Linked DNA regions of Homo sapiens. The protein of the gene in region 2 interacts with the protein of the main gene of each other region in a biochemical or structural test. Each region holds a gene or a part of one and is shown on either strand. Other genes may lie near its edges. The genes, in order: CDON and IHH.

Evidence for each region.
Region 1: the proteins of IHH (region 2) and CDON are reported together in a solved structure, tested with the Homo sapiens proteins (one study listed by IntAct).

What each region holds. Positions count from the first base shown.
Region 1 is NC_000011.10:125,956,321-125,961,866, forward strand, and holds the end of CDON (cell adhesion molecule-related/down-regulated by oncogenes isoform 2 precursor), read right to left. Parts: coding exon 5,404-5,546; coding exon of another isoform or gene 5,335-5,403; intron 4,786-5,334; coding exon 4,622-4,785; 3' UTR 501-4,621; downstream 1-500. UniProt on the Homo sapiens protein: Component of a cell-surface receptor complex that mediates cell-cell interactions between muscle precursor cells. Promotes differentiation of myogenic cells.
Region 2 is NC_000002.12:219,057,804-219,064,968, forward strand, and holds the start of IHH (indian hedgehog protein preproprotein), read right to left. Parts: upstream 3,119-7,165; 5' UTR 2,665-3,118; coding exon 2,350-2,664; intron 948-2,349; exon of another isoform or gene 885-947; intron 1-884. UniProt on the Homo sapiens protein: Plays a role in embryonic morphogenesis; it is involved in the regulation of endochondral skeleton formation, and the development of retinal pigment epithelium (RPE), photoreceptors and periocular tissues.

The DNA.
Region 1 (5,546 bases), on a different chromosome or scaffold from region 2:
AGAGGGCTACTTCCATTGCGACTCCCACAGAGACAGGCTGATGGCTGGGTCCCAGGTTTGGCTAGTGGGAAGAAGCAAGGTGTGTAGGTGTGTGTTCCTTTGCTCAACCATAGCTTACGAACATCACTGACGCTGCAGTGGTCCGACTCCAGGAGTCGCAGCCCACAAGATACGGAGCAGAGGTACTGCAGATGTAGCTTCCCGCCCCCAGGCTGGGGGAGCTGGCCCACAGAGCACCGGGGCTGTTCCAGAGTCACAATGTCAGCTGCCAGCATGACTCACTAGCTCCAAGTGTGTGTGTCTGTTTGTGTGTGTGTCTGTAATCTGGGTGAAAACACAAATGAATGCTTGTTCAACTGACTAGAAGACTCGGGACTCCGAGCCGCCTCTGCAGGAGACACAGATGAGAAGAAACGGCAAGAAAGCCAACGGGGGACCCGCCAGCACAAGGGACGTGGCGCCTGAAAGGAGACAGAAAATTGAGAAGCTTAAGAAGATTCTGTGGTTCTCACAGAGTTAGACTTTATTAGATAAGGGGTTTCGGCTACCCTCAAAGCTCTCAGGACTGGGGCTAGGGTTTAAGGAAGGCTTATTTAAATATGGGAAATAAAATACAAAAGGGCCACACCCGATGCAAAAGACTTTGCTGGCTTTCTGGTCAGACAAGCCTAGAGATGTGTATTTTCTTAGGGCAGTAAAACAAAACGTTTTCACAAGGAGGCTAAATTTCTATCCTGAAGTTCATAAACATGTGGCGCTCGGTTAATGGTAAAAATAGACAATGTGTGAGGCGGGACCGCTCCTCCTCATCCTCCCAAGCTCCTCTCCTACCCACCTCCCTTCCCTCCAAGGAAACGCAAAGTTGCCCCGAGGAGGTGGGCCTGCCTCCACATCGCCCCCAGGGTCAGGTATGTTCTCAGCGTCCCCTAAAACACTTGCCCAAGATCCTGCTCCTTCAGGGCCTTGATCTCTGCAGTCAGAACAGAGGGGTGTGCACAGGGGAGTTTCAGGGGAGGACAGGGGTGGGGGGTTCCAAAGAATTTCAGAGGAAGACATTCGCCCACCCCAATCACAAACTATAAGCAGCGTTGTACAAACAGGGAGTATTCCCACCTTCAGGGGCTATGCTATATGAAAGCAGCCTTCTCTTTTAATATAAAATCATATCAACCAAATAAAACCTGCCAAAGCTACATCATTTAAAATATGTACAGTTTCACACACAATATTACAACTTTAAGGAAAATAAAACATACTTTTCAATATGATACAAAGCATGCATCTCAAAGTCATTACTTTAAAAGAGAGCAACACAGGTAAAATTCAATGATAAACTTCACTTCTTGGCAGTACTATAGCTGGAATGAGATCTGTGGCATGATCAGCCCAAGATGGATGCATTGAGTCTTCATAGACTCATTCGACAAAAACACCCAGAAAGAAAGGCTTTTGCTAAGAACACTTCAAAAGGTTTAGAACATTGCAATGTAACTTGCACCCTGGCAGCACCTGTCACCAGACTGTCAGTGCAAAACTGAAAGAAAAACATTAAAAGGAGATCGTGAAATGATACAGTGGGAGCGGGGCAGTTTATGCTAAAACAATCACACAGAATTCTAGATGAGAAGGAACATGAATAGGCTTGACCAATTTCGTGATCACTGAGCACAGTAAAGATCAAATTTCCAGGTGGAGGTGGTAGACAGGGGGCGTCAAGGGGAGAAATGTGGACCTCTGGAAGACGAAGTCATAAGCAGAGCTCTGCCCGCGGAGGCCAGAGAGCAGCTTCTCTGGCTGCGGAGTTGGAGCCTCGGAGGAATTCCACGGCAGGGATAGATCACAGCATACGGAACGGGACTGGTTCCATCCAAAGAGTGAACCACAATGCTTTTGGAAAGCAGTATGGAAAAATGGGAGGAGCCCAGATTATGGCTCCAGATAAACTAGGTTCGGATTCAGGTCCCATGGCTCACTGAGTGACTTGGGGATTTTAATGCCAACTTTGTAGATGAGTTGTGGGGGTTAAATGAGTTAACAGTAACAAGCACCGAGCACAGTGCCTGGTACACAGTAGTTATTCAGCACGTGTTAGTGCTGTCTCCCACACTGTACCATGTCCTCTCATTTCCTGGTGAAGTGACATTAGGTAGGACTGTTTGGGTGCCTGTGCAGGGCAGAGCCAACTCACGCTTAGGGAGAACTCATACCGCCTAAATATAAAGGCAATTATATATATATATATATATGTGTGTGTGTGTGTGTGTGTGTGTGTTTATATATATATATTTATATATTTCAATATATAAAGGCATTTTTTATAAATAAAATACAATAAAAAGAATAACACTTAAAACAGCGTTACTAATAATATAAATAAAGCAGTCCACAATGAGATTGTCCTAAAGGTAAAGCCATTTTCTCTTCCTCGTGGACAGATCCCATATTCAAACTCAATCTTTAAAAGCAGTTCATGACCTAAGGCTCATGCTAATACACCTGTTTCCTAAATCAAAATGGCTGTCTACGGACAATGACTCCCCAGTTTTCTAAAACTCCCTTTGTGACAGCATTGCTGTAACTTGATTGGCTAACACAGGGTATGTTTTCATATTCTGTGCGCTGGGACTTTGTCCTTTGCTAGTCACAGAAGTAAGGGATGCAGCTATCCCCCTCCAGAGCTAACTGCATTTAAGCAACATGAAGAATAAATCCAGTATACTATAGGCACGGACATCTGGAATGTAGAACTTGGGTCTACAGCATCCCTAATATCCGACTAGGGAATTACATTCACTACATTCTACTGGAAGTAACTCTTGCATAGTGACCCAGCTTAAACAAGCACATTTTCACTAACAGTTCTATTATAAAATATATAGACATATGTAAGGGAATACTGATGCATTTATACAGAAAGTTGGTTAACACAGTATTGTATTCTATTCCACTGCGATTTCTGGGAAACTAACATTTCTTCACTTCTGCTGGAATTGCTTGACTCTATAGAAAGAGAATAATTTTCTGTTTCTTTCCCCAAAGGGATGCACAATGCACAAAGGAGCAGTGATCCTTGAAAGCTTGACTCAAGCTATGAAACACACTTACATAATTATTGTTTTTTAATGTGAAGAGCCTTCCAAAGGCAGCTGCAAATGTCCTTGTCACGCAGAGGCAGCCGTGGTCAGGAGCTCTGCTGACCAACTTGGCTTTAGGTGCCTATTTACAAGGGTGACATTCTGAAAAAGGTATCAGGAAATTTCAGGAAAAAAACCCAAAACAAACAAACAAAAAAAAACAAAAAACAAACAAACAAAAAAAAACCCTTTTCTTCCAAAGTAAGTCTTTTCTGACACTCACCCCTGCAGGCCGTTGCCTATGCTGGAGATGGGGGATGACTAGTTTCGGCGTCATGGCACCATAAGCGTGTCCCTGTGCTAATCCAACAGACTGGAGAGCTCCCGCCAAGACAGGCTCCCTGCAGCCCTCCCCTTTCTTTCTTCTGAAAATGTGTATCTTTCTCTTCAAGCCACCATTTAATGTCTTATTTTGTTCCTACTCCGAGAAACAGTCAAAAAGAGCCCATAGTGGCCATTTTATAAATTAATGTAATTTTAAAGCAGTGGGACATGAGGCATTATTTGTCTCTCTGGCCTTGGTTCCTTTTCTGCATACTGCCGTAATTCATCAAGACCTTACACTCCACCACGTCCATAACACTATGACTAGTGCCTAGCAAACTGAACATCACTCGTGCCCACGTGCAGATACAAAGTCAACAGGTCACATTACCACTTCTGTGGAAGGCACTCTTGTAAAATCCGTCAGCCAGGTCTGTTATTATAAACATGGGTCACAACTGCAGTTGATTTCAAAGTGTTCTCAGGAAGTCTGATAATACAGGCCAGACGTGGTGGCTCACGCCTGTAATCCTCGCACTTTGGGAGGCGGAGGCGGGTGGATCACTTGAGGTCAGGAGTTCAAAACCAGCCTGAAACCTTGTCTCTAATAAAAATACAAGACAATTAGCTGGACGTGGTGGCAGGTGCCTGTAGTCCCAGCTACTCAGGAGGCTGAGGCGGGAGAATTGCTTGAACCTGGGAGGCGGAGGTTGCAGTGAGCCAAGATCGAGCCATTGCACTCCAGCCTGGATGACAGCAAGACTCCATCTCAAAAAACAAACAAAAAAAAGTCTGAGAATACACTATTGAAAGACCATTTTCCACCTGAAAACCCAGCTGGTGGCAACCTTCAACGGGCCCCTGCATTCCCTCCTAGCCGAAGCAGCCAAGAGATGGGATCCTTTGCATGAGGAGCTCTTGCTGTCACTATAGCTGTTAGAAAACATGGAAGGACCCCTCTGCCCTCCAGGTGACTGAATACTATGCAAAACAAGGTTGTTTCCTACCGAGGGGGAGGAAGGAATGGGGAAGAAAACATTTAAGGCATAAATAATATAAAAGGGCACACGTTTTAAGATACATTCATATGACATTACTACTACAAAAAAATAAATAATGATTTTCTCTGATTTGAATTAAGGTCCTTCACACAGTTCGCTCCCAGGCCTGTTGTGTGCAGTTACCGGCTTGAAGTTGGAACATGACTGGTTGTTTGCATGTCCTCAGGTTTCCCGGGGCTGCTGAAGGACCTCTGTCGGGCTGTCTAAAGGAATGCCAGGTGGAGACCACATTGTCTTCTCAGCACAGCCCTCGGGGACAGGTGGCAAAATAAGAGCATTCCAACTTACAATGTTGATCTCTGTTTCTGAATGGGCACAGCTGTCTCCTGAAACACAGCAGGGTTTGGGAGCATTATCAAATGATAAAGGCTGATTTTTACAAAGCAGTCTAAAAACTTCTTCACACTTTGAGCCAAGAAGAAAGAAAAACGAGCATAAATAGAACCTGGTTTGTGTGTGGTTTGAATTTGAGGGCGACAGAAGGTTTAAAAGGTTTAAAATAAAGTTGAGCTCTCATGAGAAGCTATACAATTCACCTGAGAAGTAAAGCAACCCCTTAAAAGCCCTAAAATAACCACCTGAAAGAAAGGTTACAACTCCAGAACCAACTCAAATCAAAAAGGGGCTCATGTTCACAAAATGCATTCTTCCAGCAAGTCTTCTGCTACCCTACGAATGAAATCAAAGCCTATTTCCAAATAGATTTTCCAAAGTGTGATGGGATTGACAGCCTGAGATGAAGGACATGAGTAATAACAGAATTTCAAAGAATCCTTTATCTTGAGTCCTATCTTTTCCTGAAGGACCCAGCACCCCACCCAGTCTCCCAAGAAATATGTAAACTAATCATAGAGGGGAAACTCTGAAAGCATCACCTTCCCATACACAGCTCTTAGCTAACTGAAGATGATCTGGAATCCTAAGGTTGATCATGCCTTCCTGACCTCTGCTGAACTCTGCTGGATCTTCTGAGCCATCAGAGCTGACGTCATTTACAATGTCCTGACAGCAGGTACGCTGAGTAGGGACTGGTTCCACATTGTCCTTGACGCTCTCCTCCGGCAACTGGCCACAATCAGGGACTGCG
Region 2 (7,165 bases):
GGAGCTGGAAGCCCGGGAGGGTGCTGTCCCTCTCCCTTAGGAACAGAGGGCCCTGAAGTGCTCCCTCCCTAGCATACAGCCGCCCCCGGGGATCTGGACCGCACGGCGGTATCACAAATCTGGAGGAGGCATGGAGGCAAGCGCCCTGGCGGCGCCTTCACTGGTAGGTGGAGGTCCCCTCTCTCCTGTGCTGTCTTCAGCTCCGGGTATCCATCCCTCCACAGACAGGACTACACCTTTCAGCGCCCGGTCCCTCTGTGCCTCCAAGGCAGGAGGGCCAGCCAGCGGCCGGGAGGGAGGAGTGGCAGCAGAGCCGACTGCCTGCGGCCGGCCTGCGAGGCGTGCAAGGCCCGAGGTGCCCAGTAGGTGTCACCGCAGCCTCAGGGCTGAGGCCTGGGGACGACAGGCTCTGGAGGCGCGGCAGGTGCAGAGCGTCTCGGTAGCTTCAGGGGGTGTGTTGGAGGGGAATCGCCGGCCTGCCTGGATCCCTCGAGCACCACCGAGGATTCCCGCCGGGACCCTCTTATAATCTTAAACCGGCCCACAACCCCGCCAGAGATGACAGGGCCAGGGAACCAGAAACCGGCGGATTAGCGCCAGGGCCGCCCAATGGGGGGCCACATGCAACGTCTTCCTCTGCAAGGCGCAAAAGGGGCTGACAATCCCAGACCTCCAGGACCTCTGCACCGGTGCCCCGCCCCTATACCGTAGGAAGGAACTCCATAAACCAAGCTTCTGATCTCAGGGAGCCAGCTCCACCATCCTCCTCACGTGGAGTTGGGGTAGAGCCGCGCCCTGGGGGAAGGACCGAAGCGGTCATCCTTGGTTGCTGCCTCCTGGTGTGCCTGGGTCCTGAGAGCCCAAGAGACTGTGCAGCTGACTCTGAGAAGAAGCTGGGGCCAGGGCCTTGGTCTGAGGGGAAAGGCCCTTCCACCAGTCCTCGACTCTGAGACTCTGAGATTCGAGGCGCCAACAAGTGTGGGCAGCCCAAGTCTCAACCTACCCCCACCCTGCAGAGCCCGGGCCTCACAGACCCTTGGACTCAGCCTTCCTAGGAGCCAATAGCAGCTACAACCCAGGGCCTCGCAGGTCCTCGCTGGTGCACAGCCTGGCTGGGGGTGCTTACTGCCCAGGGAGGGAGCTCCGCTTGCTCCTTCGTAGACCCTGCCGTCAGGCTTCTAGCCCCGCACCTATGCCCGCCTGCAGCCCTGGTTCCCCGCCTCTCTCCCTCACTGCCACCGCCCCCTCTCGGGTCCAGAGCCCGGGCGTGCGCTGTCAATGATTGCCCAGCCCGTGGCCCGGATCCTTATCTGCATTCCTCGGCGCCCGGCCCGGCCCGGCCACCAGCCAACCTTCGGCCCCGACACTGGCCGGCCAGCCCCGGCGCCAGGGTGCATGCTGAGGGCCCTGAGTCTAGCTGCTCTTCCCAACGGATCTAGAAAGCCAGGGGCCTGCTTTCAGGGGGAAGCCTCGGGAGACCCCGAAGGAAGGGGGTGAAGGTCTCTCCCCTCGCGGACCTGGCTGCTGGGAAGGAATTTGCGCCTCTAAGCTTGGGTGGAGCGCGGGTCCTACTCCAGCATGCAGAGACTAGCGTCAGCCCTGGTCCCTGCCTCCCTCGGCATCTCAGCCCCTCTTTTCCACTCCTTCCCGTCCCCACCACCAAGCCCAGGAATCCCCTAAGCTCAGTCCCAGAGCCCGAAGGCCCCAATAACCCACCCTTCCACCGCAGTAGCACCCCTCAGCTCTCCGGACAGACACGTGGGCTCGCTGGGCAGGTTCCTTTTCCCACCTCCGCCTCCCGATTCAACTCTTCCTCGCTGTTCTTAACCCCAGACCCAGCCGGGACGCTGCTCCTGGAAGGGGCAGCCCGTAGAACCAAGAGCGCACAGGGAGGAAAGGCCGTGGTGACCCTACGCACCCAGAGATTCTTTGCCTCAGGGGTGCCGAAAAGTTTCAAAATGAAAGGGGCACAGCTGTGCAGAAGGTTAGGCCGGGAGGGACTGCGTGGGTCCTGGAGGCGCAGGAGGCAGCCGGGTAGAGGTACCTCCGGGTGCAGCGTCTGGCTGAGCTGCCAGTACTTTGGGGCAGAGGAGCCGCCGCCAACCTGCTGGGCTGTGGGGCTTGGCAGCGGGGAGCTCTTCTAGCAGTCTCCTCCGGGCTTGGGGATGCCGACACTCCTGCCTGGACCCCTGGCCAGCCCATCTTGGGCAGGAGGCAGCGGGGCTTGGCGAGAGGGGCAGGTGCCAGGGAGCGTGCCAGCCAGTCGAGAAAATGTGCCAGGGGGTGGGTAGGGCCGGGCAGGTGGCCGTGCTTCGGTGGCGGCGCGCTGGTAGGGCGGATCGCGCTCACCTGGGTCATGAGGCGGTCGGCGCCTGTGTTCTCCTCGTCCTTGAAGATGATGTCTGGATTGTAATTGGGGGTGAGCTCCTTGAAGCGCTCGGAGCTGCGAGCGATCTTGCCTTCATAGCGTCCGCTGGCGCCCAGGGTCTTCTCGGGCACATTGGGGCTGAACTGCTTGTAGGCGAGCGGCACGAGTTTGCGTGGCGGTCGCCGGCGGCTGCCCACCACCCGACCCGGCCCGCAGCCCCATGCCGCCGGCACCACCAGCAGCAGCAACAGGACCAGGCAGAAGTGCAGTCGGGGCCGGAGCCGGGCGGGAGACATGGCCGGGGAGCCCGGGGGAGCGGCGGGCGAGGTCTCCTGGTGGGCTGATGGGCAGGCGCGTCGACGGGAGCGCTGCGGGGGCTCAGGCGTCCGGGTGGCTCCGGGGGGCTCCAGGCGGGGGCGCCATGGGCGGCGTGGTGCGGCCAGGGCCGGCGGGACTCAAGTGCGGGGCGGGGGCCCAGGGCCCGAGCTGGTGGCGGCGCGCTGTCCCCCTCGGCGCCTCGACTCTGAGCTGCCGGGCTCGCCGGCCGCCAATAAATAGGCCGGCCCGTTTGTTTTGGCAACGCGGCGGCGGCGGGGGGCGGCGGGCGGCGGGGCTGCGGGCCGCCGGGCTGGGCTGGGCTGGCCGGGCCGGCGGGCTGCAGGGCCCCGCGGTTAGCACCCCGGCCCGGCGGTCAGGCGGCTCGGGCGGAGCGGGAGCTGCTGCCGTCTGCGGCGCAGCCCGGGGCCGAGTGAGAGGGGAAATGGAAGAGATCCGGGCTCGGGCCCCGCGCAGACCGCACCCTACCCATGTCCCTGCCTCCTGTGCGCTCGACAGCGAACCTGCAGCAAGGGCAGCACAGCCTCCTCCCCCTCGGGCGGGCGGCCCCGGCACTAGCCAGCCCTCGTCCCGCTCGCGCCTCCGCCGCGCGTCCGCCCGCCCGCTGCCCTCTGCGCCCCCTGCGCTGCCCGAGTTTGCCCTCCCCGCCTGGACGCGCCCCACCCCGCCCTGGCCTCGCCTACCGGCTCTTCGCGGCTCTGGGGTGCCCCGCCAGGCGCAAACCTCCCGGACAGGAGCTGCCACCCCCACGGAGACCGCAACCCACGGCGCGGCCGGACGCGAGGGGCGGGGGGCAGTGGCCGGACCGCACAGCCGCCTACGGTGTCCCCTGCGGGGAAGCAAACCCAAAAGGCAGGAGGCCACTCATAACCTGGTGCCCCACCCTGGCCCGGGCGACGCGCCCTTTCAGCTTGGTGGAGCTGGGTTCTGTATCAACCTGGTGCACATCCCACAGCCTGCCTGTCGGTGTCAAACTGGGGATGGGGAGTCTAGCCTTTTGAAGAGTCAAATAGGGGGTTTTAAGTTGGAAACACTGTTGAAAGTGACAATATGAAGTTGCAAAGGGATAGGTCAATATGCAGAGAAGGGTAGCTAAAATGGTGACGTCAACAGAATACCGAGGAACCCCGACTGACCATGTTAAAGAGGGGCAGCAAAGATCTCAGTAACGGGGGCTTGGTATGAATGCCAAAATGATGCAAAGCCACCGGAACTGCTAAATAATTACTTGGTTCTATATTACACATCTAAAAGAGCAGAGAATATGTAGAAACAACTAGGAACGTGAACATGTGTTATGTGTTTTTATATGACATTCGAGAAAGCTGAATGAATTAGGATCCCTTCTGCCAAAACAAGTAAAGGCAAGTGTGTTAAAAAGCAAACAAAAAACATCACCACCACAACACCAAACTATATGATTTGACTGTAATAGATTCTACAAATCCAATAAAGGTAGAAATGAAAAGATGAGAAATAAAAAGACTTAAAAATTCTCACTCAAATGCTATTAATACAATAGGTACCATTTTATTGGTACTTATATTCCTGAACATGGTAGTTATTAGATATTATTGTACTATGTCTTCTACTTGCATTATCTAATTTAAACTCGAAACGGCCAAAGGAGCTATTACTGTCCACATTTTACGAATGAAGATATTGAAGTTCAGAGAAGATGAACAACTTGCTAGTGGCTGAAAAGCAGGGATTGAAGCCCATGACTCTGGCCCAGCCCCAGTTTTTGCCCATGCAGGTGCATTGTCCCTCTGTGCAGGACCAGTCCACTCAACACCACTGGGTTCGGGGCTGAAGTAGCTGTTCACAGATTTACTCACACTCTCTGGATCGGTTTTATAAACACAAATTCAGGATTGGATGAGACTCAAGAGAGTGCTTAATCTAAGCGCTTGATATTACAGAAAAGGAAACTGAGGCCCACAGAAAGAAATTTAGGATTGCTCCACTAGGAGTGGAGTGGTGCCTGCAATGTGGAAACAAAATGGATCGCCTCCTTTCCTCCCCTTTGCCCGCACCTTCTCCCCACCCCGCATGTTCTCTCTTGCATTAGCATTCAGATTCTGTTTCCTAGTCAAAGATGAATGTTGCTTCTTTTCCCTGAAAGCCTTCCAAGTGCTTTAACTTGTATTTTCCAGGGCTCAAGAACTATCTCTGCGATATTCTCCATCCCCTTTCCCTCCTGCCCCTCTACCTCAGATTTCTGGAACAGGGTCAGTACCTCTCACAAACCAAACAGGGGCTCTCTGTTTTTATGGAGTTCCATGAAAGAAAATTCCATAGGCTTCTGCGGTCACCTATCCCACTGTTTAATAATATTCTTCTAGAGAAATTTCGCCTTAAATTTAATCTATCTCCCTCCCTCTCTAATGCAAATTCAACTCGTTCCTCTTTTTCTGGCCTTAGGGATTAGGGCCATTATCCTGCTGATTATCCTTCATGCATTGTCTTGAAGAGTTGTTAAATTGCTTTCAATCTTCTTTTCTCCAAGTAAAAGACAATTTCTTTAAGTTCTCTCAGAGGTTCTAATTTATAACCATTTATTAGCTTTTCCATTCTTCCTCTCATTTCTCCTCTCTCAGACTGTAATTCTAACCTATTAAATACAAATCTGGTAAAGATCTGATCCATGTCAAATAAGTTTTTATGCTATAAGTACTCCCATAGCTTGCCATCAGGTGTGCCTCTGCAGCAGAGCCACCTCGTTGGTTGAGACTGGGCTTCACCAAGACCAGACCCTCCTCTGCCAGGCTAATTTAGGAACAGTGATTAGGGTGTGTGCTGGAGAAGCAGAGGGAGACCAGCGTGTATCAAGTCTTTTCTCTCTGCCAGGTGCTTTACACAATTAGTAAAATCTCCACAATAATCCTCTGTGCATGACATTATTCTCATTTTACAAATTTATAACTCCAAGATCTAGATGCCAAGTAACTTGCCTGGGGTCCCAGAGCTAAAATTTGAACCCAGAGCTTTTGCACTCCAAAGCTATACTCTTTTCTCAGGACATAATGGTGCTCCAAGATCTGAATCTCAAATTTGGGTCAACATCAGTCCAACCTCCTTCAGTGGAGGAAGGATGGAGACTGGGAGCACCATAATTTCTACAGCAGTGACCTGGAGCACTTTAAATCCAACCTGGGGCCTCAGTATCCGGGTCATTTCTTGGCTGCCTATGTTCTTAGCTGTTCAGTAGGTGTTGGGTGGCTTTTAAACTGGGCTAGTAGCTCCTTAGACCTATCAAACAAGGCCTGGTTCTTTTTCTGATCATTGCCAGCCTCTGTCAGCAGTATTAAAATTGGACGGGGGCAGAGTATGCCACTATGGAAGCTCCAGTGGCATACAGCCTGGGACATGTGACCTCATTATCAGGAGAGAGATGCAGTGATCGAGCCTCACTGGGCTCGACCCTCCTGGGCCTGCTGGTAAAATCACTTTCTTCTTTCACCTTTAGATCTCTTCTATCCTTCAATCAGCTCTATTTTGAAGAGAACAAATTATCTATTGCTTTGGATAATATGATTAATTTTTTGTTTAGAAAAGTGAAAGTTAAAAAAATAGGTTAGAAATGGAGGGAAATACATAATAGAACATAATTTAAATATCTACTTAGTAGACTACCATGTTAGTATTTTTAGTCAATCTTAATTTAACACTATATAGTAGAAATACATTGTACTTATAGTATATACATGATATTCTATAGCATATCTTCACATCCACATACATACTGCATAGGTCCATACTTCTATAGTCAACTAGTATTTTTTCTCCTAATCCTGCCACTTGACCAGATCAATCCAGCTCTAAATCCAAGGGTGGTAAGCCACAACCAGACAAGTTTCAGGAATGCAGTTAGTCCAACACCCTCCAGTGACCCAGTGCACAGCAACCCTGGCTCAGTAGAAACAGTAGACCTGGAGGTGGCAAACCCATGCCTGAACACCATCTTTGCTACCTTCTACCTGTGTGACCTTAGACATGACTCTGAACTTCCATTTTCTCATCTATAACATGAAAATAATATCACATACCTCATAGAGTTGTTGAAAGGGTTAAAACATATAAGCTTTAAAGTACAAATGTTACTTATAATTCACTTTTATCCTCTGCTGGGTTCACTTAGGGACAGCAGCAAGTTTTCTGATTCCTATTACTCATCTAGGGGGAATACATAAGGAGGCTCATGTGTGGTGACCCAAGACAGCAGTGGTCATTAGCAGCCGCTATCTCTTTCTATTAGGGAATATCTACCTTGATGCTGTAGTATAATAGGCACATAAGAACACAGAATGCAAACAGAAAAGTAGAAGATACAGTTGTCCTTGAGGAATTTACTATTTAACCTTAAAGACAAATCACGAAAATAAAAGACAATTACAAAGCCACAAATGCTACTCATAAATGAATACAGAATAATGCATTATAAACTAGATAGGCTAACAG